2 separate regions of the Homo sapiens genome follow, and region 1 is linked to region 2. A link means that fine-mapping ties the variant in region 2 to the expression of a gene that starts in the linked region. Tissue or cell type: testis. Region 2 holds a variant in brackets; the other region holds the start of a gene. All regions are shown on one strand. Distances are from middle to middle. Region 1 holds the start of ABCA10 (ATP binding cassette subfamily A member 10). Region 2 overlaps ABCA10 (ATP binding cassette subfamily A member 10).

The links.
Region 1: ABCA10 starts here. The variant in region 2 is fine-mapped to the expression of ABCA10 in testis (GTEx, PIP above 0.99).

What each region holds. Positions count from the first base shown.
Region 1 is chr17:69,221,889-69,239,078 of GRCh38, reverse strand. It overlaps ABCA10 (ATP binding cassette subfamily A member 10), which reads left to right and starts at 10,255. Exons shown (of 39, transcript NM_001377321.1): 1 at 10,255-10,498; 2 at 11,794-11,934; 3 at 13,550-13,754; 4 at 16,382-16,546; 5 at 17,184-17,190. The coding sequence starts at 13,721. It overlaps PRO1804 (a long non-coding RNA gene), which reads left to right and starts at 4,067. Exons shown (of 1, transcript NR_130736.1): 1 at 4,067-6,104. RefSeq lists a silencer at 6,135-6,335.
Region 2 is chr17:69,179,144-69,196,333 of GRCh38, reverse strand. It overlaps ABCA10 (ATP binding cassette subfamily A member 10), which reads left to right. Exons shown (of 39, transcript NM_001377321.1): 12 at 1,839-1,949; 13 at 2,345-2,520; 14 at 2,722-2,841; 15 at 3,086-3,224; 16 at 3,681-3,771; 17 at 5,019-5,158; 18 at 5,857-5,976; 19 at 8,455-8,653; 20 at 10,691-10,857; 21 at 13,526-13,659; 22 at 14,044-14,181. Among named protein-coding and RNA genes, the nearest start is that of ABCA10, 41 kb to the left of the region's middle. RefSeq lists a silencer at 16,460-16,660. The variant G/C (reference allele first, on the strand shown) is at 8,799.

The DNA of each region.
Region 1 (17,190 bases), 43 kb before region 2:
CCCTACTGTCAGTAGTTACCAAATAAAATTTGTTTTCACTGCTTTAGTTTTTAGGCCATGTTATCTTTGACAACAGCTAGGCTGTGGGGGATGGGGACAGTGATCCACAGTTATGGAGATATTTAATAGAACATTGCATCTGTAGGGGCCAAATGAATGGATCATCAATGGAGTACTCATTCTTTACAATTAAATCAATGATGGGTGATCAGAAGGTTGAAGACAATTGCCTCAACAGAAGGTCATGAGTCCTCTCTGGTTTCTGGATCTGAGCCAGTTTTTGTACCCACAACCAATTGAAAGAGAAGTTGGGTCCCTAGGAGGAGGGACCCTGCAAATGATATATGGTATTGGTTTCCTCAGACCTCCTCCAAAGTAATCTATAGCCTTTAACTCAGGTAATTATATACTGGAGAAAACAGAATGCCCAATCATTTTAAGGCCTGTTTACCACAGGGTCAAAGTTGACACAAGTCCAAAGACTCAAAGTAAAGTATCATCATGCCCTCTCTGACAGAGTAAGAGGCATTTGAGTTCTAGATAATAACTAAAATCCTAGCCTAGAGCTAGTTCATAGAGAATCCACTAGTCTGTAGACCTATCTGTCATGTCTCTAGTCCCTGATTTGTAATTGGAATAGATATACATGGGAGTTGGCATAACCCCCATTGTTTTCTTGACCTATGGGGTAAGAACTATCATAGTGTGTATACTAGTTTTCTAGGGCTGCTGTAACATAGTACCACAAATTGAGTGGCTTAAAAAAACAGAAGCTTATTCTCTTACAGTTCTAGAGGCCAAAAGTCTAAAATCAAGATGTCAGCAGGGTTGGTTCATTTTTGGATACTCAGAGGGAGAATCAGTTCCATGCCTCTTTTCTAGCTTCTGGTAGTTGCTGGAAATTTTTTTTTTTTTTTTTGACAGAGTCTCACTCTGTTGCCCAAGCTGGAGTGCAATGGCGTGATCTCAGCTCACTGCAACCTCTGCCTCCCGGGTTCAAGCGATTCTCTTGCCTCAGCCTCCCGAGTAGCTGGGATTACAGGTGCCTGCCACCATGCCCATCTAATTTTTGTATTTTTTAGTAGAGACAGAGTTTCACCATATTGGCCAGGCTGGTCTCAAACTCCTGACCTCATAATCCACCCACCTTGGCCTCCCAAAGTGCTAGGATTACAGGTGTGAGCCACTGTGCCCGGCCAGTTGCTGGAAATTCTTCATGTTCCTTAGCTTGCAGATGCTTATCTCCAATCTTGTCACATAGCTGTCTTCCCTGTGAATGTCTTGTGTCTTCTTCAAAGGTTGCCAGTCATTTTGAATTTAGGGCCCACCCTACTCCAATATTACCTTGTCTTTTTACATCTGCAAAGATCTTTTTTCTAAATACAGTCACCTACTGAGGCTTTTAGGAAGGACATGAATTTTGGGGAAATTACAGTGAGAAAACTGTACTAGCCGCAGTCAAGATAGGAAATAAAAACATTTCATTTTGGGAGAGGGAATGGGAAAGGAATGGAAGAAGTTAGTGCCACCCTTAAAGACCTAAAGATGCAAGTGGGAGGGGGATGGTCTTTATAATATTTCCGTGTTAAATATACTAATCTTGGTCCTGCAAAAATCCAGTTCTAGAGGAGGATATTAGTCTAGAGCAAATTCAGCCAACTGTTGGCTTCAGTTGAGTAGATTAACCAGATGTGCTATCTTTGCCAGAGCTGATTAAGAAGAGCTTCTGTCATGTGGTATACAGCCACTGATTTGGCAAATGGCCCATTTTCCATTCCAATCAGAAACATTTTGCATTGATCTGGAATGTACAAAAGTATACATTTTGCTCTGCCCTAAGGCTACGTTTAGGGTTTTCTTTCTCTCTGCCAATAAATTCCAAAAGAGACCTGGATCAGCTGGTCATTTCATAGAACGTAAGACTTGTCGACTCCATTGATGACATCATGAATTAAATGAGTAAGAAGTGGCTAGTATATTGGAAGCCTTGGTTAGACATTGTGCTACAGAAGGAGTATATCAAAATCCCATGCCATTAATATTTGACCAGAAAATAATAACTTTTGCCATTTCCTCTTCACTATCCAAAATATACTGGATTTCTCCTTAGGAAACTTATTTTGCACTGAAGTGATTTGCTATTGTTTAATACAGGGTATCTTAACCTTGGTACTATTGACATTTTGGGCTGGATAATTTTTCGTTGTGAGAGACTGTCCTGTGTGTTACAGGGTATTTGTAACATTCTTAGCCTCTTCCCACCAGATGCCAGTAGCACACTCTCCCAAGACCAAAAATGTCTCCACACTTTGCCAAATATTTCCTGAGGGAGGGTTGGGGTGGGGGTAGGGGGAGGAAGACAAAATTACTCCCATTTGAAAATACTGATTTAATGCATTGATTTGGGTTGAAAATTGATTCATTTATCCAAAGGCGTCAGTGGAAAAGTTTGTTTTAATTATTTTCTGTAGTTTTTCCATACACAAGTAATGTTTCATACTCAGTGCTGAAAGGAGGTAGATTCTTGATTCTGGTTCACTCAGATTGAGGTAGTAGGGAGAAAATTTCGATTCTAATCTTGTAATAAATACATTCTATCAGTTTCATAGACTCTGTCTGCAGACTTATTCTCAAGGTCTTTGTGCATATTTGAATGCATGTCTTCTTTCAGTGCTGTTTTCAGTTAATCTTAGGTTGTCTTTGAATATTATGTGAACTATCTTCTTACATGTGAAGTTACTTATTTGCTATTCTTAAGTCATTTCTCAATGGGGTTCCCAATTTGGGACTACTCACTTTGGGCAGGGGGGATTTACAAGCCTGCATTATAAATATTAGAAGTAGGTGCCCTGGATAAAAATAAACTGTTTATAAAGACAGTGTGGCCGATCCACAAGTTTGAATAGCTTTGCTTACATTTTGAAGTTCAAAGAAAGAATCTTTTCAAAAAATCCTACTACTATTTGACTTGGCCATATATATATAGGTATTGTAAGATGCAAACCCAGGATCTTATCTTTGTCCTCATGGTTATTCCCATGCAGCTGAGGATACAAAACCTATACAGCAGACAACTGAGACAAAAGTTGAGAACTGAATTGTATAGAAAGCCACTGGAAGTTTTCTTTTGCCTAGTTAAAGCTCAAAAGAATTTACAATGTACAATTTAAATTCAGAGTTGTAACTGTGCTGGGGGACAATGAATTTTACACTGAAATGTGACAGTGTCAAGATTATTTAAAAGTATTGCATCTCTAACTTTAAAATTAAGGTTTTGTTTTTGTTTTTTTTGTTTTCTTTTTTTTAAATCTCAGTAACCATGAGAGATACAGTTTCTAATCCTGCCAGGTGGAAGCAGCACAATGCAAGGTGTGGGTGGGTGCCTAGTAGAAATGGGACAGAAAAAGAGTGAAACTCTGACCACCAGATGGCAGCAGAGGCTTGTGCCAAAGGGATACCTTTCTGGTCCCAGAAAGGGGTGGGGTAAGGCCGCTTGAGTAGTGGCAGTGACAGCAAGGCAGTCTAAGAAGCCAGAACTGAATGAACTAAGAAGCCAGAGCAGAACTCTTCTGAGCCAGAGTCACCCAAGTGCTAGTTCATTTGAGAAATGGTGAGGCAGTAATAGAGTTCAAGAGGTTAGAACAAAGTAAGAGGGGTGAGCCAGAGGATACTCCTAGCCATTCAACAAACTTAAAGAAGGCAGAACAGCTAGAGGTTGAAAAGGACAGGAATGGTTCTTAGATAGGACAGGACAAGAACCTGAAGTTAGATTGTAATCACCGGTTATAAATCCCTCCTTTGGTCTCTTTGAGGAGCCACAAAATAGGAAACGTTTCAGGCACTCTCCAAATGGCACAGAATCTAGTTATCTCTAATATTGAAAGTAAATTTTATTGATAACTGGGATAACTTGGAGGGAGATGGGCAGAGATGGTTAAAGGAAACCTCCAGAAATGGTGTTGTTTATCGTCTTTTTAAATAAAGATGTAACCATAGTCTCAAATCTAATTTTTTACTTCTCATTTCTTTTGCTTCAAAAGGGAAAACCAGTGATAGTCACATCCTTCAGAAAAATTAGTTAATTTTTTTCCTTAAACAAATCATTACTTAAGAATTTAATTGATAATTCCCACTGGGAGAAAGCATCAAGATGAGCAAAAAACAAGTGGCATTTTATTTGGAATATTTAAGAAGTAAAACAATTCCAATTGTTAGAAGAGACTTGACGTATAAGAACTAAGCATTAAAAATGGTAATTAAGATTAATTGAAGGTTTACTCTGTGAACGCCATTGTTTCATTGCTCTATGCAAATTTTGTAGAGCAAAAAATTCATTGACCAGCAGCATCAAAATTAACTGGGGAGAGTGATGCCAGCAAGATGACATAATAGAAGGTAACCCACTCATTACCCGCCACCCCCCATAACAACAATAATTCTGCACCACCACAGACCAAAGTCTCTGTGCAGGAGCCTCAGGATTCAGGTATAAGATTGTGAAACCCCAGTGGATCCCAAGACCTAGAGGTTGTTTTGAGAGTGCAGACTAGCACCCTAGTGGCTGATCTGCTGATTTTGCTTCTGGGTTCAAGCCTGGAAATGGTTCCATTCCCCAAGGAGCTTGGCTAAAAACTCATTTGGTCTTGAGCCTACAACCAAAACCATCTGCCAAGGAGTCCAGAAAGAATCATGTACACTAGTGCCTCAACAGAGAGCCTCCTCTGACTGCTGACAATGAATCTGAAAGTTGCCCTGTGACTTGACTTCAGCCCTTCTCTGCTAAAGTCCCAGCTCAGAACTGCTCACACAAGGACCTAGAGTGAGACTCGCCCATGTCTTGCATCCTGGGAGTCTGAACTTCCATGTTGTGCTCTCCAGCCTCTGTCCCATAATAGATCCTGAGGGAAGCCAGCCTCAGTTCTGACCCCTCTGCAGTCAGGGAACTAGCCCATCTGTGCAGAGACTTGCTGGGAGATGCACACTCATCTGAGCCAATAAGATAGGCTTGCCAGCTGCCTTCTGCAGGAGATCCAAGGGTCCCCAGTCTCAGCCCTGGCCTCACCTGCTACAATCAATGAACTACCTCACCTGTCCAGGGACTGTAGGAGATGGACATCCATCTTAGCTACCAGAACAGTCTTCTGGGTTTAGGTTTCTGGCCAGATTTTTCATACAACCTGGGTACCCTTCTTTGGTCTTCCCCAGGTCTATCTGGGCTAGAAAGCTGCATAAATCTCAGAGCTCTCCCAAGACTCATAGCAAACCTGGGCTTAGCATGCCCTTTAATGCTCTAATGCTGAGACAGCTGTACTGGTCTTGGGCTCAGGGAAGACAACAGTCAGTCTCCTTAGAGTCTGTGGAAGATCTCCTGAAGAAGAATGGATATAAACAAAGCCAGATTGGGGAAACTAGAATAAATGCCTAATCCGTCAATGTGCAGACATTGTCACACATCCACAAGCATCAAGAACATTTAGGAAAATATGACCTTACCAACTGGACAAAATGAGGCACCAGGGACTGGCCCTAAAGTGATGGGGATTGTGATCTTTCAGACAAAAAATGTAAAATAGCTGTTTTAAGGAAGATCAATGAACTTCAAGAATATACAGAAAAACAATTCAGAAATTTATCAGATAATTTAATGAAGATTGAAATAATAATTAAAAAAACCACAAACATGCCGGAGTTGAAAAATACAGGGAGCATAATGAAAAATGAAATAGAGACCATCAAGAGCAGAACTGATCAAATAGAATAAAAACATTAGGGAACTCAAAGACAGGCTGTTTGGAAATAATCAGAGGAGGTAAAAAAAAGAATGAAAAGACAGTGAAGAAGGCTTATGGAATTGATGGAACAACATTAAAAGAGAAAATATTCCAGTTGTTGGAGTTAAAGAGAGAGTTGAGAAAGACAAAGCAGTGTGAAGGTTATTCAAAGAAATAATAATAGGACTTTCCAAACCTGGAGAAAGATATAAATATACAGGAACTGGAAGATCACAGCTAATCAATCAGATTCAACCCAAATAAGAATACCCCAAGATATATTATAATCAAACTTTGGAAGGTCAAAGACAAATAGAGGACCCTGAAAATAGAGAAATAAAAGAAGCAAATAGCATATAAGGAAACTCCAATACACCTGACAAGAGACTTTTCCAGCAGAAACCTTACAGGCCAGGATGGAGTGGAACATGATGTATTCAGAGTACTGAAGGAAAATAAAACTGCCAACCATGAATACTGTATCCAGCAAAGCTGTCCTTCAGAAATGAAGGAGAGATAAAGACTTTACTAGACACACAAAAGCTGAGGGGAATTCATTACTATCAGACCTGTCCTATAAGAAATGCTGAAGGGAGTTCTAATCTAAAGAGAAGAATGCTAACATGATTGTTATTCTAATACTGTAATTGTGGAGCATAAACCACTTATATCGTTAGTATGAAGAATAAAAGTCAAAACTATTAAAAATAATAAATTATTTGCTAAGAGATAGGCAATATAAAATGTAAAATTTAAAAATTGTGACATCAAAAATTCAAAATGTGGGAGGAGAATGGAATTAAGTGTACAGTTTTTTTATTTTTCCTTTGCTATCAAAGTTAAGTTATTTTAAAATAACTTGTTAGATGTTTTTTTGTCAGCCTTACGGTAACCACAAAGCAAAAACCTATAATAGATATATTAAAAATACAAAGCAAGAAATCAAAACACTACTAGAGAAAATCATTTACACACAAAGGAAGATTGTAAGAGAAGAAAGGGTCCACAAAACAACTAGAAAACAGGTATCAAAATGGCAGCAGTAAGCCCTCATCTATCAATAATTAACTTGAATATAAATGAAATACATTCTTCAATCAAAAGACATAAAGTGGCTGATTGAATAAAAAACAAGACCCAACTATCTGCTGCCTACAAAAGACTCACTACACTTGTAAAGAGACACATAGATTGAAAATGAAGAGATGGAAAAAGATATTTTATGCACATAGAAACAAAAAAAAGAGTAGGAGTAGCTATACTTATATCTGATAAAATAACCAAAACTTTAAAATGAGATAAAGCCATTATATAATGATAAAGAGGCCAGTACAGCAACAGGATATAATAATTATAAATACATATGTACTCAACATAAGAGTACCGAAATATATAAAGCAAATATAAATAGATCTAAAAGGACAAATATACTGCAATAAATAATTGTAAGGAACTGGAATAGACAGATCATCCAGACAGAAAATCCCAAAGAAACATTATAATTAAACCACATATTAGACCAGATGGATATAACAGACATTTATAAAACATTCTGTCCAACAGCTGCAGAATACACATTCTTCTCAACAGCACATGGAATATTCTCCAGGAAAGGTCATATGTTAGGCCACAGAACAAGTCTCATCAAGTTTAAAAGAATCAAAATTACATCAAGTAGCTTTTCTGACCACAATGGAATAAAACTAGAAATCAATAACAGGAGGAACATTGGAAATGGTACAAATACACGGACATTAAACAACATCCTCATGAGCCACTAATGGGTCAATGGAGCAATTAAAAAGGAAAATATTTAGAACATTCTTGAGTCAAAAAGGGGGAACATGATATACTAGAACCAAAGGGATACAGCAAAAGCAGTTTTAAGAGGGAAGTTTATAGCAATACTTGCCTACATCAAAAAAGTAGAAAGATCTCAAATAACCTAACATGGCAACTCAAGAAACTAGAATAACAGGAGCAAACTAACTCAAAATTAGTAGAATGAAAGAGACAAATACACAGGAGAATGCCATTTGAAGACACAGGCACATAGAAGAGAGAATGCCACGTAATGACAACACAGATATTAGAGTTACGTATCTGCAAGTCAAGGAATGACAAGGGTTGCTGGCAATCACCAGAAGCTGGGAGAGAGAGCATGGCTTTTCAGATAGGACAATGATTTTTGGACTTCCGGACTCTGACACTTTGAGCAAATCAATTTCTAAGGTACCCAGTTTGTGGTACTTTGTTATGGCAGCCCTAGGAAACTAATACAATGGAAATTTGGGCAGGGAATGTAAGAAGATGAGCTAGTTTATAAGATATTTTATAAGATAAGGTAGCTTAAGAAAGCTGGCAGTGACAATATTTTCTCATATGTAATTGCCAGTCATATGTAAAGAAAGATGGAAGGAGAGAAGAGATTGTAATAGAAATTAACAATAAAATAAAAAGAGATAACCAAGAGAGCTAGATTTTTAGATTAGGTAATAGAATTTGATCGAAGGATTCTGCAGTGGTGTTGAGTTTAGAAAAAATTGGCTGAGTTTCCTCTGGGAAATTAGAATGAAATAGAGGTATGTGGAGGAAAACTTCTGCCAAATTGCCTCTGATTGTTCATTAATATAGTACATTTACCTGCTGAAAGCCATCGTGCTTTCAGGGGTCAAGGACTCAAGAGTAAGGAAGAGTTTGATGAGGAGGTGCTAGTTGGTATTATGTAACGTGGATGTGCATAAGCCTAAATCTGGAGTATTTCAACATTCTGACTCTGTAGCAGAACTGTATAATTATAAATATGTAAAGGCTAAGAATGAAAAGGGTCCAAATCCTATTATAAATGTGTAACAGAGACCTGAGGATTTTATATGACCTCTCCAAGGGACACAGACAATGAGTGACAAGTCTGCAATGCAGGTCTCAGACTCCCAACTGTACCGTATTGGAGATTGAAATCCCTAAAATTATTGTCTTAGCTTGTTTTTTATTGCTATAACAGAACACCACAGATTTAGTTGTACCCAGCAGACTGGGTAATTTATAAAGAAAAGAAACTTATTTCTCACAGTTCTGGAAGCCGAGAAGTCCAAGAGCATGGCACTGATATCTGGTGAGGGTCATCCCACAGTGGAAAGGTGAAAGGTGGAAGCATGTGCATGAGACAGAGAGAGAGAGAATTGGGCCTAACTCATCCTTTTATCAGGAGCCCATTCCCAAGATAATAGTGTTAATCCATTTATGAGGGTGGAGCCCTCATGACCTAATCACCACTTCTAAAGGCTACACTTCTCAATGCTGTTTCATTGGTAATTAAATTTTAACATGAATTTTAGAGGAGACATTCAAATCACAGCAATTATGGAAATAAAAAATATTTTAAAAATTTGGTGATTAAGAAGGGTGTATGTCTGTATTATAGTATGATTTTAATTGTTTTCCCCACCCATTTAAGTGAATATTACCATTAATGTCTGGGATCGGAACCAGGTTAAGTTTCATGTTTTCTATTTCATGAACTTTTACTTCTAGTAATGATTTTGCCTGAATAGGAAGAGAAATGTCACTAACAACAAAGGAAAGCAATTAAAGTATGCTTCCTTTGTTGTTAGTGACATTTACAATTAAAGGAACCATTTATTTCCATATTCCTAATGAAAATGGTAATCATTTGAAGAGTCTCTGAGTCCTTTACCCTTTCTGTCTCTGTCACTTTCATGAATGGGCATTAGCTTCTGTATGCATACCAAGAAGTGTATTATTATAGTTAAAATCACATAAAAAGATTTTCAGGGTTGATAAAGAGGCATTATTTGCCATTCTGAGAATATCCAATTTAGTTGTAGCTGAAAAAAAAGTAACAAAATCATTAAAGTTATGCCATCTAGTCTATACCACTACACTTTTTAAATGGGTATCAGATATCATTGTCTTGATTAGCACCATTTTCATAGTGGTAGTTAAGAGTGAGGGATCTTGGAGTCCAGATACTATTCTGGACTCATCTGTTGGCTTCACACTTATTTAAACATCTGCAAATAACTTCACCTGTTAGCCCCACCTTTCAAATTTGTTTAATGGATGTGAGTAGAGTACCAACTTTGTAGGTTTGCTTTGAGTATCAAATGGGAGAATTCATTTAAACCCTTAGAACACTTTCTAGTACATAGGAATTAGTGAATACAAGGAACCATTTAACTGAAATGCAGTTAACTTTCAGATGAAACTTTCTCATTGGAATGATTCAGATTTCTGAGATGAGCAATCCTCATTTTCTCTCTCTCTGTTCAACTTTATCTTTAATTTGCTCCTTTTTTAGCTTGGCTGTCAAATTTTTAATTATTAAAAGTCATGCAATTGTAAATATGTAGTTATCCATGCAATTGTAAATATGTGGGTTTTTCTTTTTGAATTTGATCTCTTTTTTTGTGTGTATGCCAAAAAGAGCAATAAACAAATACCAATGATGCGCTCAGCCAACAATTCATTACACTCTCTGAAGAGTAACTGGACAAGGAGAAAAACATAGGGAAAAAACCAACAGAATTTGTTGGCATGTTCTACACACAGACCATGGCTTTTCAGAAGCCAAGCTGAATCAAAACAGTTTTAAAAGAGGCAACCATTTGTAGAGGAGTCCTTGAAGGATTCTTCATTGTTTTCTTGGACAAAAAGAGACCAGTGGATCCAAGTGCTTCAAATACTTCTCTCTTATTTTCTTAACTGTAAGTTAAAATTTGTTTTACATTTTCACTTTGCATAAGGTTTTAAAGATATAAAGTATATAGCCAAAGCCAAACATATTGATTGAAATTTTTAAAATTATATTATTCAGATGCTCTAAATTATTTTATGCTTTATGTTATAGTACTAGTGAGTTATTTTATTTTAAAAACTTATGTAACATTTTAGTGTGATAAATGAAAGATGGCTAGATTCAGAGGTGTATATAAATATTATCAGACAATAAATTCTCTCTCTGACACTGCTTTGAATATCCTTTTGAGAATTTGTATGGTTTTACTTCTTTAGAATGTGTGAGCATTAGGGCAAGTTCCTTTTTTCTGTGTTCTTTTGTTCTTTTAAAATGTTTTTGTGGTTTGCTTATGGAGCTGTTTAAGTAGACCTCTGTATCCATAAAGTGAAGATTGGTGTTTTAATGTTTCTACTTTCTTAAGTTAGAATTTAGAGATTATATTGGGTTTTGCTGGCTTTGCCTTTTATTTTATGAAAAAGGGGAAATATAGCAAGTTCTCTCTGAACATTGTAATTTGTATATAATATCAACATTTATTCAAATGGACTTCAGTAGTCATAGTTGTGACACCAAATGATCAGCTCTGGATTTTCAAATTGAAAACAAAGAATAAGGATCATTATTACAAATCAATTACTCTAGTCATATTAGCCAATATTTTTGGTTTTAATCTGTATGTATCTTACATATTTACTTCATAAATGGAGATTTAAAAAAGAGGAATTAGCTTTTTGGGATTCTAAGAATGGCCGTAATGTTTTCGACTTTGCTTTGCCCAGTGGTTAACAAGATATCAAATACATGTGCCCAGATGTGCAATTCAAAATAAGACAGCTTGTGGTCAAATTGCTGACTGACAAGGAACTGCAAAGTGGTTTCTTCCTGTTAAACTTCTTTTTCTTAACAAGTAAAGAGAAAGTGTTTTTTGGATTCTAAAAATTACTAAGATCTTATTGAGGGATTTACTTTAGGTGGATGTAATGTTAAGATTTCATGGAAAAAAAGTGACTTCTGAGACAAAAGGAGAAAGGTCTTATATACTATCTCCTTTATCTCCCTCATAGCCATAAAAGCCTGGAGAGAAATAACAACTGAGAAGACATTTTATAATTACTAATACTTTATATTCTTTTTTAAAATCCTGATTGAATATGTTGCTACAGTGTCATATAAGGCATTTAGTTGGCACATCTGAAAATTATGCTTTCAAAATGTTCAAAGGCTTTCTGTAACTGAACTTTTTTTTTTTCTTTTTTCCCCTAGCTATTGCTCTGCAATATTTACTTTACCCTGTTAATGAACAGGACAAAATGGTTAAAAAAGAGATAAGCGTGCGTCAACAAATTCAGGCTCTTCTGTACAAGAATTTTCTTAAAAAATGGAGAATAAAAAGAGAGTTTATTGGTATGATTCACTATATATATATATATATATCCATAATTAATAAATGAAAATCCACCATATAGTATTATGCCATTTTTATTACTTTTCTTGTTTATAAATTCTGATTTTTAATTATCATACTGGCTAGTTGATTTGAGATTCTAAATACTGCAAAACGATATATATTTTGCAAAATAGGATAATATTTGTGTCAAATGTGAAATTAACTAAAAAGCTCATCTGACAGCTCCTGAAAAATAATCTTTTGCAGAATAGAACCAGCCATTTTCCACATAATTAATGCATTCAAATCTCAGAGTCATTCTGATTTACTCTTAGCTAACTTCTGTGTTGGGGGCAGGGACAGCCAGGGGAAAGATAAGCTAGGCAAAATAAAATAGATTTTTACGTGGGCAAACCCTGATACTATTTGGGGACATTTCGATTAATGTCATGTTATTTGGTAAGGCTGGGAAAATATCTATGAGTAAAAATCTGCAAACTTTTTTGGAATCTCTTCAAAGCCGTGCTTTTTGTAAACATAGAATGGTTTCATGGAATAAGATCACAGATTGTCAATACCTTTGCATTCTGTTGAGTTTCTTGTATGCTGACATGAATATTAAGACATTGCTTTGTGTTACTATGAGATATAACTGGATCTGCCTTGACCATGTAGAGATTGCAGTCTGTTCAGAAATAGTCAGTACCATTTCAGTGGGAGCTAACAGGATTTATATCATCCTTTTAAATTTCTGCAATAGCTTCCGAAGCAGTTCGATCAAATATTTTGCTTCGTATATTGAAGAAGGATACATCTATATTTATTACTCACTAGAATTTAAAAAAAGTATGTCAATCCAGAAATGTGAAAATATTGGTACAATGAACACCTATACATCCACCATCCAGATTTGACAGCTGTTAACATCTTGCCATCTTTGCTTCATCTCTCTGTCTCCTCTTCTTCCCTAAAATATATGTAATGGCTAAATATTTTAGTATCTCAAAAAATTAAGAACTTGGTTCCCTACATTACCACTATCCCACTACACAAAATTAAAAATAATTCCATATCATCTAGTTCCATGGCCAAATTCAATTTTCCAAATTTCCCCCAAAATGTCTTTTAAGGTTGATTTGTTCAGGAACCAATGAGACAAAACTAGTTATCCTGTTGAATATTCCATGTTCTCTTTTTATCTGATTGCCTCTCCATGCTGTCATTTAAGTCATCCCTTTATCATCTATATTTTTTGTAAGCAGTGAGCTGGATCTAAAAGCAGGATCCAATTCTGGTTAAATATTTTTGGCAAGAGTATCTTCTGTGTGATGCCATATACTTACGTTGCTTCAAATATGAGGGCATAAAATCAATGGCAGTCCCACTAATAGGGGTGCTAAATCACTGGGTTAAGATTGATTGCAATTGTTGATATTATCTCAAAAGTTGTGTATTTTTGAAAGGGTGTTTTTTTCTTTAAAAGGTAGATATTAATTTGGGCAGAAAAAAATTACAGACTGAAATGAAGTCATGCTCAATGGCAATACATTCTGCCTTAAAAATGTGTTTGGATGTTTCTCACTGGTCTGGACCACGTTATAACATGGCTCATTTCTCTTTTGTGTGCTGGAGGAATGGACAATAACATTGTTTCTAGGGCTATATTTGTGCATCTTTTCGGAACACTTCAGAGCTACCCGTTTTCCTGAACAACCTCCTAAAGTCCTGGGAAGCGTGGATCAGTTTAATGACTCTGGCCTGGTAGTGGCATATACACCAGTCAGTAACATAACACAAAGGATAATGAATAAGATGGCCTTGGCTTCCTTTATGAAAGGTGTGTTGTCCAATAACCAATGTTTCAGTATTATGTGACTTAATTTTCAAGTTCTTTTTGCAGGTTGAATTTACTTACCTAGCCTGTGTGTCAGTGATTCTCAACTGAGGCAAAGATTCTCATTATATATGCAGTACAGGGGTTGGTGTGAAGCTAAGGGTAGGTGGGCAACAGATGAAATGATTTACTTTTGTTTGTTTGTTTGTTTTTAATGATATGCATACCGTTTGCCCTTTATACTAGAACATATTGTTGCAGTAGGAAAAAAAGATTGGACCCATTTTAGATGATACAAATTTCACTTTTCCAAAACTTAACTTAAAAAACTTTATATTTGGGTTGGTATTCTATAATTTAAAGAGTTTCAAAAAATTTTAAGGATTTAATTATTTTCAATTGAGATTGAAATAAATATAGTTCCCAGTATATAGGAATTATAAATCAAAGGTGTTTGAAATTCAAACTCAAGCTTAGCAATGGTGTTGAAAAAGCATTACTGTTTGGTGTATAAAAATAGTTAAAATGTACAGCTCAGGGCATTTAAAATTATTTAAAATCAAATCAGGTATTGGCTACTGAAAGTCAACAAATTCACAGCCCTTGATCTTAGAGTAGTGAGGCTTTTTTTTTTTTTTTCCCATAAGACTTTTTCTGCATATCTGGACTCAGAAAATAGATGTCTCTATGTTATGTAGGATGCTGCATTAATTTGATGTATGCATCTCATAAAGAAATAAGAACACCTGAGAGTCCTACTTACTATGTGAGACCTTTGCCTACCATCCTTTATATCTCTACTGCCATTAGGAGTAACTATTGGTGGTCAGCTGTGGTCTCTGGACTCTCCATAGAGGCCTTTGCTCCTGCATAGGGAAAGTATCAGGATAAAATGTTCTTTTCTTCAGCAATCTTAGCCTACTATCAAATTTCTCTTGTTGTTAGCCCTCATTCTGCCAGGGTTCTGAACATTGGCCATTTCATCCTTTTGTACATTTTATCCAATCTGTTAACGTCTCAGCTCTAATCACTGCTTTTTCTTGTCTTTCTGAAACTTTTATTTAGTTTTTTGGTGTCTGGATTGCCATGCCAAGGGACACCTCCAAACTCTGAATTTTAATTATTTTATGTGAGTTGCTAATATTCTGTGCCTAACCTATCCAAGCTTTCGAATGGGTATTGTTATCCCTGGCTGCTTTACCCTGTTTTGTAATTCTTCATTGCAGTTTCTGGAGCTTTGACTTTGGTGGGCCTCCCTTACTTGCATTGTTTACATGTTCTGCCTGACCACAGTGTTGATTCTGCCCTGATCTGTCTCTATTCACTTCCTTTGTGTAGTCATTTACCTCATTTTTTCTGAACTCATGAAGCATTTACTGAAGCCTCAGGGACTATTCTTCCTGTATGCACAGTGTAAGCTAATAGCCACTTTCTGTCTTAGTCTCACGGACCACTGGACTCTGTCTCTTTCTTATATAAAATATCTCATTCCAGCTACCATGCTCGCCTGTTCCAACCACAGCTCCTCTCTCACTGTCTTATTCTACATTTATCTAACTCTTGCTTTTTAGCATAAATATTCATGGTTTGGCCTTGACAGTATTTTTTATACCCCTAGAGAAAATCAGTGATGTTAGCACTGTCCTCATAAAAGTTTCACCGCCTGACTCTATATTGGGAAGGATGAGGAGTTTTGAAAGGTATGGCTACAGCATAAAATAAACAGCTTTTTCATCTTAATGTAGATTTCACCCTGAGTGAGATACAAAGTTAATAAAATTTTTAGAACATAATACATAAACGTGAAAAAGGAGGCACTAATTGGACCAGTGATTTTCAAAGCTTCTGTTAGTAATAGATCTATTAAACACTTAGTGGGTGGATTACTCCTGCAGATTGTAAACTCATTCATTTATGCACTGATTACTATACACTTAATTCTTAGAGAGTGTTCTTGACCTCAGAGAATCTGTAGGTAGACTATATTTTTTATTTTTGTACTCTGATTTTTTGTATACAATTTACCTCTAGTGTACTATTTTCATGTGATATCAGTTTATAATCTTGGCAGAAAAAGAGAAAACACCAAATTCTGAGTATTTGTATTGCTTACTTTAAATATTTTTCCTTTTAATTCTTAAATTATTTTAGTCACTAAAGTAATATCTACTTTAAAAAAAGTTGAATAGTACAAACTTGTATGAAGCAAAAATATGAGAGCTTTTCCTTTCATCTTCACCACTACTTCCTCTCCTCCCCTACCCCCTCTCCTCCCCTACCCCTCATTCAAATTGTGTATATCCTTCAAGGCAAATATGCACATGGTCATATATAGAGTATGTTTCTATGCTTACATAGGCACATAAATTCAGTTTTCTTTACCAAAATGAGATCACACTAAAAGCAATATGCTGCAGATTTTTAAAAGACAATGTGTCCTTTGTGTCTTTTCATGTATTTGCATTGAACTTAAAACAATAGTTTCACTCAGCCTTTTACTAAGAGGCAGCTATCCAGAAATAATATATAATACCACTAATTTTATATAAAACAAGCAACTGTATTTTGTTTTTGTGTCCTCTAGTAATAAGTTTACATGATTATTTATTTATGTTTTTCATACATGGTAGGAAGAACAGTCATTGGGACACCAGATGAAGAGACCATGGATATAGAACTTCCAAAAAAATACCATGAAATGGTGGGAGTTATATTTAGTGATACTTTCTCATATCGCCTGAAGTTTAATTGGGGATATAGAATCCCAGTTATAAAGGAGCACTCTGAATACACAGGTAACTATAAAAAAACTGATTATAATTTTTTTTTGATACTTCATGGAATCCCCTGTTTGGAATGACTGATAGGAATATTAATACAACCAAGTAAAGAATTAATATACATTTCCCTCTGAACTTAATCATCAGTCTTTAACTTAGGATGAGTCTCATTATTTTGGCAACTACTCATATGTCCTTTTTTTTTTTTTTGAGATGGAGTCTCCCTCTGTCACCCTGGCTGGAGTGCAGTGGCGCGATCTTGGCTCACTGGAACCGCTGCCTCCCGAGATCCAGTGATTCTCCTGCCTAAGCCTCCAAAGTAGCTGGGACTACAGGCTAATTTTTTTGTATTTTTAGTAGAGATGGGGTTTCACCATGTTGGTCAGGCTGGTCTCGAACTCCTGACCTCAAATGATCCACCCGCCTCGGCCTCCCAAAGTGGTGGGATTACAGGCATGAGCCACTGCCCCTGCCATCATATGTTCTTTTTTTCTCCAATTCTGTAGAGTACTTTAAAAATCCTCTATATCATATAATCATAGGCTTTGAGCTAACATTTAGATATTTTGATTTTTGAGCCAAAGTTAAAGTTTTAATTCCAGGAGTTGACTCCATTATATAACTATGGACATGTTTTTCTTCTTCCTTAAAGAACACTG
Region 2 (17,190 bases):
CTGTCTGGGAGATGAGGAGCGTCTCTGCCCGGCCGCCCCGTCTGAGAAGTGAGGAGCCCCTCTGCCCGGCAGCCACCCCGTCTGGGAAGTGAGGAGCATCTCCGCCCGGCAGCCGCCCCCTCCAGGAGGTGGGGGGCAGCCCCTGCCCGGCCAGCCGCCCAGTCCGGGAGGGAGGTGGGGGGCAGCCCCCGCCCGGCAGCCGCCCCGTCTGGGAGGTGGGGGGCCCCTCTGCCCAGCCGCCACCCGCTCTGGGAGGTGTACCCAGCAGCTCATTGAGAACGGGCCATGATGATGATGGCGGTTTTGTCCAGTGGAAGAGGGGGAAGTGTGGGGAAAGGAAAGAGAAATCAGATTGTTGCTGTGTCTGTGTAGAAAGAAGTAGACATGGGAGACTCCATTTTGTTCTGTACTAAGAAAAATTCTTCTGCCTTGGGATGCGGTTAATCTATGGCCTTACCCCCAACCCCTTGCTCTCTGAAACATGTGCTGTGTCCACTCAGGGTTAAATGGATTAAGGGCGGTGCAAGATGTGCTTTGTTAAACAGATGCTTGAAGGCAGCATGCTCCTTAAGAGTCATCACCACTCCCTAATCTCAAGTACCCAGGGACACAAACACTGCGGAAGACCGCAGGGTCCTCTGCCTAGGAAAGCCGGAGACCCTTGTTCACATGTTTATCTGCTGACCTTCCCTCCACTATTGTCCTATGACCCTGCCAAATCCCCCTCTCTGAGAAACACCCAAGAATGATCAATAAATACTAAAAAAAAAAAAAAAAAAGAAAAACTTCATTGTTTGATAATGCTTCAAATTAAAACACAAAAACATTTCTGTGATGTGAAAATATCATTATTGTGGAAAATTAGAGAATAAAGAGAAAACAAAAAAATTAAAATATGTTTCTGCCATGAGGGATAATTACCAATAATATATTATCTTTTTTGTATATATACATTTATATATAAAATATTTTTTCAACAATAGGAATACACTGTTTATACCGGTTTATAATCTTTGACCTGACTTTATCAAACTAAGCTCGAAGTATTAGTGAAACTGGTTTTACTTTCATAGAACTCTTCATCGTCTATTTTGGCCTGTGGTTTGCCTGATTTTTGACGCTCTGACAATCTAATTCCCTCTGTTTTCTGTCTTCAGAGAATCTTTTAAAATTTCCAGCATGCTAACTGAATTCTTATTTTCCGGTGGAGTTAAGTTTTCAAACATTAAAGAAAAAGTTGTCAAGCCTTAGGCACATATATGTGAAAATGCCTGTGACATGTCTTAGATCCCAGCAGATATTTCTAAATATCATGCCCACACTTTTGTGATATAAAGCAAAATGATGACCAGTACCAGGAGATACTTTACCAATGTTTTCTTTATCAGTTCTACCTCCCTCCGAATATGAAATAAACTCTTCCCCTTTTCTCTATACCCAGCCCTTCTGTTTCCAGCTCTGCAAGCCTCAGGGAGACAATTTCTTAAGCCACACTTCTTTCCTTTGCCTAGGAAGCAAATAAACTACGTTTTGTTTTTATTTCTAGTAGTCTTTGTTTTATTATTTAATATTAAGTGTATAGATTCTTTGACATTCAAAGGATTTGAAGGAAGCAAGAGGGTAGAAATTTATATTCCCAGTCTTGATCCAATTTCTCCAAATTGAAGCTTTGTCTTCAGGAATACATAACTTATACAATTAAATGTATAATTTTATAGGGGATGTATTAAAATACCAATGAAATGAAATGCTGAGATATATTTTACTTTTCCAATTTTAAGGTCCATTCCATCTGCATATAATCCAAAATCTAATTTCCACTTTTTATTCTAAAACAGGCATATTTTTTGACATATATGAAGGACAGATCACTGCAATACTTGGGCATAATGGAGCTGGTAAATCAACACTGCTAAACATTCTTAGTGGATTGTCTGTTTCTACAGAAGGTGAGAAAACAGTTTTATAAAGTAAGTTGGCTGAAAAAGCAAGTTGTAAATTGGTTTGATTATGTAAAAAATGTTTCTCTAAATTGGACTTGTTACACAGTTGAATAATTTAGAGCAGGAAATATTGATTTCATATGCACATAAATTCATGAAAACATTTGTATCTCTATTCCACTATTATTTGACATTCCATGTATATTTTGCATTGCTGTGGACACAGATATTTACGTTAACAGTAATCTGAATTATTCAATGTATTAATTATGCAATTGGAAAATGTGAAGTTTCTTTAATAAAAACAAGTTTTTTGAACAAAATCTAAATACTAACATATATTATCACTCTGCATAGAATTAACATTCTGGCAGTAAAGCCTTTTAAATTTCTATTTATAGGATCAGCCACTATTTATAATACTCAACTCTCTGAAATAACTGACATGGAAGAAATTAGAAAGAATATTGGATTTTGTCCACAGTTCAATTTTCAATTTGACTTCCTCACTGTGAGAGAAAACCTCAGGGTATTTGCTAAAATAAAAGGGATTCAGCCAAAGGAAGTGGAACAAGAGGTACAGGAACACATTAAGATTGATGGCTTTGGAAATAATTTACTTTTGACTATATATTTTTTTTGTTCAGCTATTACTCTACTCTTTGATAGGTAAAGCTTAATCAACGAAGTTCTAGACTAAATCCTTTTCATTTTTAGAGAGTAAAAACTCCTTAAAGTAAAATATTTGATATTGTTAACACAGAGTTTTCTTTGATAGGTAAAAAGAATTATAATGGAATTAGACATGCAAAGCATTCAAGACATTATTGCTAAAAAATTAAGTGGTGGGCAGAAGAGAAAACTAACACTAGGGATTGCCATCTTAGGAGATCCTCAGGTGAGAGAAAAAATATATTTTTACAATTAATTTAGATTGAAGGATATACAACTATTATTAAAGTCCAACTTCTACTGTAATTACCAAATGTGAGGGAAAATTTATAATAAAGTACCATGCAAGCTTGTTAGGGATCTGGTGGAGGACTGTATTTGAGTCTAGAAATCATACTTGTTTTCATGGTGCTTTCTGAAGATCCTCACTGTGAAGAGGAAGATGCTTTCATACGTTTCCTCCTCTGTAGGTTTTGCTGCTAGATGAACCAACTGCTGGATTGGATCCCTTTTCAAGACACCGAGTGTGGAGCCTCCTGAAGGAGCATAAAGTAGACCGACTTATCCTCTTCAGTACCCAATTCATGGATGAGGCTGACATCTTGGCTGGTGATTCTTGGCTTCTTTATTCCAACTAGTTATTTAAGGATTTAACATGAGAGTTATTTTTCATAGCCTGTTTTCAAAAGAAGAAAATCTTGTTTGCAGTTTATTTGCAGAAGCCCATTTCAAGCCTCCACATGCCATTGGCTACAACAGGTCACATGGGGTGTAACCCTGCAAAGTTACATGGCAAAGTATGTGGACAAAGGAAGAGGTGAAGAATCAGGCCATCCTTGGAAAGTTTTGAGGCACTGGATTAGCTATGGGGAATGCAGTGAATTTCTGAGGCCTGTTTCACAATAGGCATGGGGATTAGAAATGATACTGCACCCAGGGGCTTAATGATATTACAGTTGTATTGATATTACAAATTTCATTCAGTGTTTTAGTATCCAAAGTAGAGAATATACCATATAAGGAATTACTCTTCACATAATTTTTTGAATCTTCCTTTCTACTCAGATAGGAAAGTATTTCTGTCTAATGGGAAGTTGAAATGTGCAGGATCATCTTTGTTTCTGAAGCGAAAGTGGGGTATTGGATATCATTTAAGGTATGTATTCTAGGTGTAGTTATTTTTAAATGAGCATATTAATATGAGGGTGACATTTTGTAGAAGCCTTTAGAAATATAAGAAAGGCAACTTAACTTCTGGTAGAAACTGTTTTGCAATAAACAGCTCAAAATGTCTTCCTCATTAACATTTCCTTTCTTGGTTATCTCTTGGTTTTAAGCATGCTAATTAAAAAACAAAGTATACTTCTTAATACAACTTTTTTGTTTGTTTGTTTGTTTGTTTGTTTTTTTGAAGACACAGTCTCGCTCTGTTGCCAGGCTGGAGTGCAGTGGCTGCAACCTCCAACTCCCTGGTTAAAGCGATTCTCCTGCCTCAGCCTCCCGAATAGCTGGGATTACAGGCATGCGCCACCATGCCCAGCTAATTTTTTGTATTTTTAGTAGAGATGGGGTTTCACCATGTTGGCCAGGATGGCCTCGATCTCCTGACCTCGTGATCTGCCTGCCTTGGCCTCCCAAAGTGCTGGGATTACAGGCATGAGCCACCGCGCCCGGCCTATACGACATTTTTAAGCCAATATTTGTATAGAAAAAAATTATCTTTATGTCCTCAATAAGCCATTGTTTACTTTTAGCAAAACAATTTGGCCTAAATTTCTGTAGTTATATTCCAAATCTAATTGATAGAATGGCAGAATATCACATGGGAACATTTTAGAAAGCATCAAATACTCACAAACAAGCTCTGCAAATAGAAGTTGTTGACATTAAGAGAAACCACTTAATGCATAGAAAGCAACTGTTTATTAAAAACCTTATGAATTTTCCAGTTATTCAGAAGCAATGTTTCATGTATCTTATATCCTATCATGATTGTTTTTTATGTATATCACACATGTAGCACAATAATGATAGTTTTATATATGTATATATACACACACATAAAATAACTTTTATACACATGTATTTGCATGTGTGTATGTGTGTTTGTGTATGTGTGTATGTATGCTAAAATGTCACTGTGCTTTAGTTACATTTAAAGGAATTGGTGTTGATATGTACTATAATTTTTCCATTTGAAATAATGCAAAATAGGCTACCAATTAGCACTTTGAAGTTGAATTAGCAATTTGAAGTGGAGTATCTGATTTGCAGGAACCAATTACTAGAGTTAAGTAGAATATGCCTGTAATACATATAAGCTGTTTAATAGAAAACTATCTTTTCATGAGTGGTGGTGTTGGAAAAGAATTCAAGAGACTTATGGCTCTTTTGAAATAATAGTTTACACAGGAATGAAATGTGTGACACAGAAAAAATCACATCCCTTATTAAGCAGCACATTCCTGATGCCAAGTTAACAACAGAAAGTGAAGAAAAACTTGTATATAGTTTGCCTTTGGAAAAAACGAACAAATTTCCAGGTAACTTACTGTGTAATCACATAGAATATATGTAAGTGTTCACGATTGTGCTGACTGCATTTTCTGTTGTTCTATGAATCGAGTTCTAAAGCTTATACAAATGAAAATATTTATTCATAAGTAATCTGTTCCTATTTCCAATATGATGATCTATGTTACCAGGGACGTATTATAGCAACTAAAATTTCCATGAATATAGAAACCCCGATTTGCACTCTTTGTCAAAATTAAACTTTGAAATATCTCTTTTCTGAAATAGCAGTTTCTGTTAGAAATACAGATGAAATGAGACTTTATCTTTTAAAATATATGTAAGCAGTTCAATAGAGTCTTTGAAAATTATAATAATTTTATTATATATATAAAATGGTTAGTATAGAAAAGTTAGAAAATACAAAGGATAAGGTATAACTTAATAAATTTTTAGATAGACATACAGATACATGCTTATACAAACACACACAGCAATAATGATACAAGAATTTTAAAGTTTATGAAACAAAATGGAAATGTAAAATATTAAAACTGATTTGAATGACAAGAGAATATCTTACAGAAAAGGTTTCCTTGGATTATTGTGATTGCTTTAATATGAAAACATTTGTAGACATCTATTTTGAGTAATATTTAGAAATTAGTATTTTAATATACTCATTGATAATTTTAATTGCGTTGACTTATTACTATTGGCTTTTTAGATCTTTACAGTGACCTTGATAAGTGTTCTGACCAGGGCATAAGGAATTATGCTGTTTCAGTGACATCTCTGAATGAAGTATTCTTGAACCTAGAAGGAAAATCAGCAATTGATGAACCAGGTATAAAAATGTGTGTCTAGCAGAAAATTAAGAAAAAAAAGAGAAGAGAAAAAGATGATGTTCTAATTCATATTTGTAGATTTTTATGTGGATTTCTACCTATAATATGCATTAGATAGAAAATAGCATTGTCCACTAGATAGAAAATACTAGCATTGTCCAGTATTATAATCATTTTATATCGAGTATAATCAGCCTTGGTGCTAGGCAAATTGCTTTCCAACATCTGTCTGCTTCCCATGTCAGTGACAGGCACATCTCTTTGCAATGACCACTTCTTCCTTATTATCAAAAGCTCTCTGCTATAGCGATGAATTCTGCTATTGCCTCTTACTTGCCATTCCTTATAAAAATGTGCTCTTAATTAGCTAATAAACTAATTCTAATTAATGTATTAATAAGAAGTAATAAAATAAGATGTTATTTCCTTAGTTTACTTTGTAATAAAAATTAGAAGAATTTAGGAGGCTACTATACATAGACCAACGGAACAAGTTAGAGAACCCAGCAATAAAGCCACAAACCTACAGTCATCTGATCTTCAACAAAGCCAGTGAAAACAAACAATGGGGAAATGACTCCCTATTCAATAAATGGTGCTGGGATAACTGGCTAGCCACAGGCAGAAGATTGAAACTAGAGCCCTACCTTTCACCCTATACAAAAATAAACTCAAGATGGATTAAATACTTAAATGTAAAACCTAAGACTATAAAAACCTGAGAAGAAAACCTACAAAATACCATTCTGGACATTGGTCCTGGCAAAGACTTCATGATGAAGACTCCAAAAGCAATTGTAACAAAAAGAAAAATTGACAAGTGAGACCTAATTAAACTAAAGAGCATCTGCACAGCAAAAGAAACTATCAACAGAGTAAACAGACAACATACAGAATGGGAGAAAATATTTGCAAACTATGCACCCAACAAAGGTATAATATCCAGAATCTATAAGGAGCTTAAATCAGTAAGCCAAAAACAACCCCATTAAAAAATGGACAAAGGACATGAACAGATACTTCTCAAAAGAATACATACATGCAATCAACAAGCATATCAAAAATGCTCTGTATCATGAATGAATAGGGAAATGCAGATCAAAACCACGAGATACCATCTCACACCAGTCAAAATAGCTATTATTAAAAAGTAAAAAAATAACAGATGCTGATGAGGTTGTGGAGAAAAGGGAATGATTATGCCCTGTTGGTGGGAATGTAAATTAGTTCAGCCACTGCAGAAAGCAGTCTAGAGATTTCTCAAAGAACTTTAAATAGAACTATCATTTGACCCAGCAATCCCATTACTGAGTATATAGCCAAAGGTATATAAATCATTCTGTCATAAAGACATATACAGATACGTTCATTGCAGCACTATGCACAATAGCAGAGACATGGAATCAACCTAGATGCCCATCAGTGGTGGACTGGATAAAGAAAAGGTGTTACATGTACACTATGTAATACCACGCAACCATAAAGAATGAGATCATGTCCTTTGCAGCAACATGGAGTAAGCTGGAAGCCATTATCCTAAAGAAATTAACACAGGAACAGAAAACCAAATACCATATGTTCTCACTTACAAGTGAGAAGTAAACATTGAATACACACGAATACAAAGAAGAGAACAACAGACACCAGGGCCTACTTAAGTGTGGAGGATGAGAATTGAAAAATGACCTAGTGGGTATTATGCTGATTACCTGGATGACAAAATTGTCTGTACACCAAACCCCCAAATCCCCATGACACGCAATTTACTCATGTAACAAGCCTGCACCTAAATGACACACAGTTTACCCATGTAGCAAGCCTGCACCAAAAATAAAAATTGGAAAGAAAAAAAAGAATTTAGGAGGCTACTAGATACCAGCCATTGTACTCAGTCCTTGAATTATATTGTTTTAAATTCCCATAATAACATCAAGCTGCCCATGAGAAAACTGATATTTGAAGTTGTGTGATTAGCCAAAATTATACAGTAAATGTGTGGTATATGTGGGACTCAAACAGGAGGCCTTTCCATGAACTTTCCATCATTTGAAAGCACAATGTCTTGAACTCGTTACTGAGATGTCAATCATCAGTGTTGAACTAATCCTGTAGGGGAAATTCCAGATGACAGAGGAGGCCTGTTGGAAACTCAGCTACATAAATTTGTCTTTGTGCTTCTGCATAAAACTTGCTCTGCAAAAGTATCCATTAGTGAAGAGCTACTGTTATTGGTATGAAAGAATAAATGCTTGTTAGGAAGCCTTAATCATCCTCAAAAATTAATTTACTGTCTCATTGGAACTGAATCCATTACATATGTTTGAAGGAAAGATTTTTAACGTAAATTTTGATTATGGATATCAGTAGCTTAACTTGTTGGAAGTGCTGTTTCAAATAGTCTAACATCATTTTCAAAGTTTTTAAAGAGAAAGTTCAGATAACATAGCCTATTAAAATGTTTTATTACATGATTGTAGATTTTGACATTGGGAAACAAGAGAAAATACATGTGACAAGAAATACTGGAGATGAGTCTGAAATGGAACAGGTTCTTTGTTCTCTTCCTGAAACAAGAAAGGCTGTCAGTAGTGCAGCTCTCTGGAGACGACAAATCTATGCAGTGGCAACACTTCGCTTCTTAAAGTTAAGGCGTGAAAGGAGAGCTCTTTTGTGTTTGTGAGTATCAGATTACTTTATATCTATTTGGTCAGTATATGAAAAAACATTCAAATATTAAGAAAGTAAATATATTAATTTATTCATTCATTTAACAGTTTTTTTGTATGTTTACCTATCCTGCTGTTACTGAGGAAAAGGGCCT[G/C]ACTGCCTCATGTGCTAGAAGCCAATACTGTGACACTGGATTTTTGAGGAAAGAAAAGGTTTTTATTGCTAGTTGACTCACAAGGAGACAGGAGACCAGCTCAAATCTGTCTCCCTGTGCTGACTTTAAGGCAGTAATTTTATTAGCAAAGGTTTAGGGGGTGGGTCCTGGGATTAGCATGGTAGAAGAAAAGGAGAGGTCTGGAAAGTCCTCAGGCATGTACAGATATCTCTTCATGCCTCCTCATGTATCCCTTGTGCAAATTCAAGCGCAGTTGGTATGAAATATATGGTGGAAATTCAGGCTGTGAAGTCGGCAGGATGATTCTGGACCGACTGTAATTGGCCATATTGGTTTCAGCTGATTTCAGCCAGTTTTATTATCTTACAAGCTGAGGGAGTTTCAGTGTTTCAGCAAATTGTTTCTTTTTTTTTTCTTCTTTCAATCTGACACCCTACAAACTCAATAATTTCTGCTAGTCATTGATTTCTTTAACTCTTTGGGGCACAGTTTTACTACTGTAGTGAACAAAATTGATAAGGCCTTTAAACTTGTTCCATTATATCACAAATCTTTATTGAAGCCTGTTATAGTATACTAGGCATTGTTCTAGGAGCTTTGGTTATATTAGTGAACACAAAAGGCACAGATCCCTACTCTAATGGTGTTTACATCTGGTTGGGTGGAAAAGATGAAAAATACTGAATATAAAACTAAATAACTTATATGCCAGGTTATACAAACTAGAGTAGAAAAGGGGATAGGGAGGGATGACAGGAGTTGGAGGTACATTACAATTCTAAATAGGTTTGCTGGTGTTGGTCTTACTGAAATTGTTACGTTTAAGCCAAGATTAGAAAATATGGAGGGTTAATAACAGTTGAGAAACAAAGCATCCATTGGATTTGGCAAAAGGGAAGTTATTAAAGGTTTTAGCAAGAGAAGGTCTGAAAGTAGACAACTCTTTTGCGGTGCTTGACTGTGGAGCGGAGTAGAAAGAGCAGAAGCTAAAAGGCAATGTGAAGTCGGGAAGAAAGTTGATTTTATAATGAATGAGAGATAGACGGAGGGTGGAGAGTTTGGATTCATCGCAATGTTGACAAGGACTGATCTTTTTGTTAGGAGCAAAGATCTATTATCTACTTCAACAGAATAAAAGAATGAGAGGATGACTGAATCTGTGTATGTGTTTTCTTTTCTTTTGGCGGCGATAAGATGAAGGAGTTTCTGTCCTATAGACTCCATTTTTTTTTTCTATGAAATATATGGCTGATAGGGAGAAGGAGGTAGAGTATGAAGTCTGATGGGAAAGTAGTCATTGCAGAGTGGACTCATGGCTTATTAGAGAAACAAAGATTGCTTGGAAGCATTTCACTTGCAATTTGAGTTGGTGGGATGACTTCTAGGATATAAAAATAGTGTTTTAAATATTGCATTTAGTTTCCTGAAAATTAAAATATTTGTAAACTAACAATTGAAGAAAGTTAAAATTTTACTTGCAATTGTGCACATAGCAAGCTTGAGGCTGCAGTGTAAAATAGGGCTTCTTTCTCATCAAAAGTACCCAAGCAGGCAATTTGTGGCCCCTGTTATCTCATAAAATCATTTCCTGTGTTTTCCTGGTAAACCAGCATACCTGCAGAGGATTGCCCCTGGATTCCACCTTTTCTCTTGATGCTCTGTTACCCTTGAATATCTTCCAATGTGATACAAAGTATGTAATTTTTTTGTGCTGATTTTCAGATTACTGTCACTGTATGTTTCATTTTATCTAACTAAACACCACATATGCATGTGGACTTTCCATAGTTAGCACTTATATAGCATCTTTGTGACTTAAATAACCAGAGGAAAATTGCTTCAGACTCATGTTATAATTTTGTTTTACTTAGGTTACTAGTACTTGGAATTGCTTTTATCCCCATCATTCTAGAGAAGATAATGTATAAAGTAACTCGTGAAACTCATTGTTGGGAGTTTTCACCCAGTATGTATTTCCTTTCTCTGGAACAAATCCCGAAGACGCCTCTTACCAGCCTGTTAATCGTTAATAATACAGGTGAGAAATGGGGCTGAAATTTAGTGTGAGTTTTTATTATCAAAGATCTTTAGAAAGCACATACCTGAGAGACAATTGAAAACAAAAATGGTGTCTATCCAGCTTGCTCCATTTTCAAATGAAGGAAACTGATGGGTTAATTTTCTTTTTTAATATTTTTTATTTTGTATTATCTTTATTTCAATAGGTTTGTGGAAAACAGGTGGTGTTTGGTTACATGTATAAGTTCTTTAATGGTGATTTCTGAGATTTTGGTGGACTCATCACCTGAGCAGTGTACACTACACTCAATGTGTAGTCTTTTATCCCTCAACCCCGTCCCACCCTTTCCCAAGTCCTCAAAATCCATTGTATCATTCTTATGCCTTTGCACCTTCATAGCTTAGCTCCCACTTATAAGTGATAACATATGATGTTTGGTTTTCCATTCCTGAGTTACCTTCACTTAGAATGATGGTCTCCAACTCCATCCAGGTTGCTACAAATGTCATTACTTCATTTCGTTTTATGGATTAGTAGTATTCCAAGGTGTGTGTGTGTGTGTGTGTGTGTGTGTGTGTATTTAAAAAGTTATATATATGTATGTGTGTGTGTGTATATATATACACACACACACACACACACACATATACATATATATATAACTTTTTTAATCCACTTGTTGATGGATGGGCACTTGGGCTGGTTCCATATTTTCACAATTGTGAACTGTGCTGCTATAAATGTGTGTGCAAGTATCTTTTTCATATGACTTCTTTTCCTCTGAGTAGATGCCCAGGAGTGGAATTGCTGGATCAATCGGTAGACTTACTTTTAGTTCTTTAAGGAATCTCCACACTGTTTTCCATAGTGGTTTTACTAGTTTATATTCCCACCAACAGTGTAAAAGTGTTCCCTTTTCATCACATCCATGCCAACATCTATTATTTTTTGATCCATCTTCAGGTCTCGCAGCCGTGGGTACCAGCACCTGTTCTGGTGGAGGTAGCAGGGGAGTGAAGTGGACTCTGTGAGGGTCCTTGGTTGTAGTTTTGTTTAGTGTGCTGGAACAGTGTTGGTCAGCCTCCAGCCTGGAGGTGGCACTTTCAAGAGAGCATCAGCTATGGTAGTATAGGGAGGATGCAAGCTTGCCCTAGGGTCGCCTGGATAAGTATTCAGGTTTCTCAGGTGGTGGGTCAGGGCCATAGAACTTCCAAGAGATTATGTTTACCAGGGCGGGTGGAGAAAGACCAGCAGGTGAGGGCAGGGTTAGGCACGTCTGAGCTTAGACTGTACTTGGACAGGGCTTGCAGCAGCTCCTGTGGGGCATGGCCGATGGAGTTATGTTCCCAGGGAGATTATGGCTGCTTCTGCTGCATCGTACAGGTCGCTAGGGAAGTAGGGGAAAGCCGGCAGTGACAGGCCTCATTCAGTTCCCACACAGCCCGCAAAGTGGTCTCAATGCCCCTACAACAGAACTGAGTTTGTTTCCAGGCAGCTGGTGAGCAGGACTGAGAACTCACCCCATGCTACAAGACTCCCTTTGAGAAAGCAAGCAGGGCTCTCCGGTTATGTGCCTTCCCCCTGCCATGGCTTCTGTGCTTGAATCTGCACTCCCTGATCATTCCTTCCCCAAGATTCTGTCCAGGAAACTATGCATTTGGTTAAAATTATTACAAAGTTCAGCTGGAAGTTTCCTTCTTCCTGTGGTCTTTCCCCAATTCCACTGGCAGCCCTCCCCAAGGACCCCTCTGAGACAAAGTCAAAAATGGCTTCCCTGGGGGCTGAGAGTGCCCACAGGGTTCCTCCCACTGCTTCCTCTACCCCTATATTTCGCTTGGCTTTCTAAATTCGTCTTAGCTCCAGGTAAGGTAAAATCCTCCCGTGATCTCAACCTTCGGATTCCCCAGTGAGGATGTGTGTTTGGGGACACACATTGCCCTTTCACACCGAGGGCACTCAGTTTTTCAGCTGTCTCATGGAGCCTGCAGCTGCAAGCCGCCTCTTTCAAAGGATCTGTGGATTCTCTCCCTGATGGGTCCTTTTAAATCCAGAGCTCCCTTGGTGCGGGGGTGGTTGATTCAGATGTGGAGGCTGCATCATAGCTTGACTTCTCCCTGTGACCAACTTGACTTCCTTTCCATCTATGATGGAAATCAAGTCAAGAAAAATAATGGGCACAATGGCAAATATCAAGTTAACTTAATTCCATAAAGATGTTTTGAATGGGTTACTAGTACTTTAAATATCATGGCAAGGTTAGTGCCATTTAAGGTTGACAGGATCACTAGAACAAGCCTGGGTCATGAGGTATATTTTGTATGTATTATTCATAATTACAAATATTACAGGGTTCTGGTAAAGTTTATAAAAGTCACTCCTAGCAAATTTTCTTCCTGTGAGAAATGCAATCTTATTTTCATAAACTCTTTTCACCTGGTGAGAATTATAAGATAAATGAATATATTTCTGAAAAGAATAAAGGAGTCCGTCACATTGAAGATAGTAAATGGAACTTAATGTGGTAGCATCAGAATGAATAGTATTGTACTCCTAAAGAGCAAGGCTCTTTACTAAGCTATTCTGGGTTTTTCTTAACACGATTGGCAATCATTATTATTTTAAGCTTTGACTTTGATTTTCTTGCTTTTTTTTTTTTTTTCTTGTTGCCTTCCTTCCACTATGTTAGGATCAAATATTGAAGACCTCGTGCATTCACTGAAGTGTCAGGATATAGTTTTGGAAATAGATGACTTTAGAAACAGAAATGGCTCAGATGATCCCTCCTACAATGGAGCCATCATAGTGTCTGGTGACCAGAAGGTATGTTTGCTTCTATGCACTGTTTTTTTTTGGTTTTTTTTTGTTTTTTTTGCCACGTCCTAATACTTAGAACTATAGGAAACTTAAGTATGTTTTCTAAATTGGCATCATATTAGAGGAGGCTTGAAACTTTCTTTGTCACATAAAATATAAATATTTGACATCTTTTCATGTTAGTAAATGTTAATCCATTTCATTTACAAAACAAGTCACTTGAATTACAAAAATAATGCATTCTTGTACCAATTCAAAGAAGGCAGAAGTGTCAAAGAAAAATTAATAGTCTCCTTCTCATTCTAATTCCACTCTGGTAATATACAAAGTATACAATAAATATATTTACTATAAGAATTTATAACTTATATTTGTGTACTTTTTTTCAAGGATTACAGATTTTCTGTTGCGTGTAATACCAAGAAATTGAATTGTTTTCCTGTTCTTATGGGAATTGTTAGCAATGCCCTTATGGGAATTTTTAACTTCACGGAGCTTATTCAAATGGAGAGCACTTCATTTTCTCGTGTAAGTAGAGTATTCGACTTATATAAGAGGCAACACAGCAGAGGGATAAAGGATGAGGGCTCTAGAGCCTACCATGTGAGTTCAAATCTTGTTTCTGCCACTTAACAGCAAGTTTCTTAGCTACTCCTTGCCTTTGTGTCTTCATCTGCAAAGTAGGGAGCGTAATAGTACCTACTTTATAGAATTATTGTGAAGATTAAATGAATTTACTGAGTACCTAGAACATAGCATGGCATACATATATATATATATTTACATATAAATATATATACACATTTAAATTTATTCAATAACTACTTCCTGAGTGTACTATTTTCTGGTACTTCTAGATGTTGAGAATACAGCATGAACAGAATAGACAAAAATCTCACCCATATGGAGCTTACGTTCCTATAAAGGAAAGAGGAAACATTCAAATACATGTTTGCTATTACTTATTCTGAAAGATCAAGAATCTTTCAAGTACTGTTATGTTTAGTCTAATTAAATTTTTAAAATTCAAAAGTTTTATGGAAAAATTTAAATATATAATTATTTACTTAGTAAATTAGATGTAACCTATCACTTCCTATCCCTTATCCTGATTTATTTTTTCCATTACATTTATTACCACTTGGTATGCTGTAGAGTTATGTTTTATGGCTGGCCTCACCCCTCTAGTTTAAAATCTTGTCTGATTAAGAATCACAGTCCAACACAGAACATTAGAAGAGCCAAGATCCAAAAGGACACTGCAAAATTTAAAATAAAAGAGAAAAAAATCATAGGACTGTTGAAAACTCATAATTTTGACTTTGGTTTACCATATACAACTTACTAGGTACTCAATGCGTATTTACTTAAATCAGTGAATGGATTTGGTTGGAAATGAAGAATATCAGAGATATCTTAAACCTAAATCCTTAATTTTATGTCAGAGTGTCAGATTTCCCTGGAGAGTTAGATGAATATAAGACATATACGCTGATTAATGCAAATGCAAAAGAGTGTGTATGTATGTATACACACCCACATATGTATATGTATATCTCCACCAAAGGGATTTATGATAAAATATGGTCCAATTCTAAAATTATGATTTTTTAACAGTTCTATTGTTCTTTGTCATTTAAAATTCTGCAGTGCTTTTTTTTGGTTTGGCTTCTTTATGTTTTATAACTTGGGGTGTGAAGTGCAATTTTTGATCAGATGCAATTTAGTTATTCTTTCTAAATTGTCAAATTCTTAACTGGTGTGTTTGATTATGATAGATAAAAAAGGGAAAAAATTATAGAAATCATGTGGATGTTAGCAAGAATATGCATAGTGGTTTTAGATAATGAAATTTTATTGGAAAATTGCATAATAAGAAATTAATACCATATAATGCAAACTCTAGTTTTCTGCGAATGAGATAGGGTGATTTAATTGTAAGTAGAGAAACTATCTAATATAAAACAATACAGTGTCTCTCTGGATGGTAATAGCAATGTGCTACCAGTTCAGAGCAAAAATAAGAAAAATATAATCAAAACTTAGTTCTGGTAATTTCTCAAGAGTGAGATCTAATATAATTTCATCTATTTCCCAGTACTTCCAGAGTTAATCATGCCTTTATTTACCCTTAATTGTTTACTTTTAATATAGAATCGATGTTGTCTTCCCTTTTTTTTTAATCAATCTCCTAACATCCTCCAGGACTTTTCAGCAGATGCTTTAATGCTTAAAGACCCTCCTAATTTATTTTTCAGTGGAACTGAGTTCAGACTCAGTTTGTCATTGTTTTTCAAATATGAACTTCTTGAAAGTAATAATTATACTTGACTTATTTCTAGCACAAAGGATGATGCATTGCACGGAGCAGAAGCTCTATAAATATTTGTTGAATGGATGAATGAGTGGGTAGACTGGATAACTGGTTATGCTGTGCACCGTTTGTTACCATTATGGCACAGCTTTCTCTTCTGCAAGATGGGAACTGCAAGCAGATAATCTGTAATAGTCCTGTCTTTAAAATTTTTTTATTTTAATACTTGCTTTTTCTACCTCATAAAGTAGACGTAACATTCAACTAAGATATTATTTTTAAAAGTGTTTAATGTATCGCACAACCATGAGCCATTATTATCATTACTGTGGAAGCATGTTACAGTTAGCCTTTGTCGGACAAACTCTTCATTACTGTAAAGACATAAAAATTATCTTGCAACTTTTAAGTAATATGATTTAAAGGGCTTTCGGATTTTTCAGAATTGAATGTATGCTGGGTTTACTGAGTGCAAACCACTGTAGTTCACCCTGCATTTAATAAAAAAGCTTTCTCTGTAGGGAAAATAGGTCTGGCTGAGCATGAGCCAGCTCTGGAGGAAGAAAGATGGTATTTGGGGTTTTCCCCTCAATGGTAGCAGGAAGCTTGCCAGGGCCTCTGGGTGTTGCTAAAGAGAATTCCGTAGAGAATATCAAGATAAAGAAATTCTGCTCATGCAGAAAGTAGCATGGGTTGACCTCCTTATCACCTGCAGTCTGATAGAGGGTACCTTTCCTTTTGACTGTTCTGCTTCTTCCTTCCTCCTTTCTTTTCCCCAGTGTTTTGGGGAATGTTATGTTAATCCTTAGGTGGAGTAAATAGAAATGGAGCTGAGGAAAGAAGTTACTCTTGAGGCTTTTGCTTCAGATGCAGTATGACACACATTTATCTTTTCCAGGTAGCCTTTCACCCTGCACAGAGCTGAATGGGTCTCATGTGGCCAGTGGGCCCCAGAGGGACCCATCAGTTACCTGAGTTTAGTTTCTGAATCTGCTTACTAAGATTATTACTCATGAACTCACAGAATATTTGTCTTAGCATATTACCTCCAGACATCAAATACATTCGTTGTTGATTGCTCCAACATGTTAGGTAGGTCTCTTACATGGGGTTCTATTTTTCCCTTTTGACGAGGTTCAGATAGAGGTTTTTTTTTTGTTTGTTTTGTTTTTTTGTTTTTTTTTGAGATGGAGTTTTGCTCTTGTCACCCAAGCTGGAGTGCA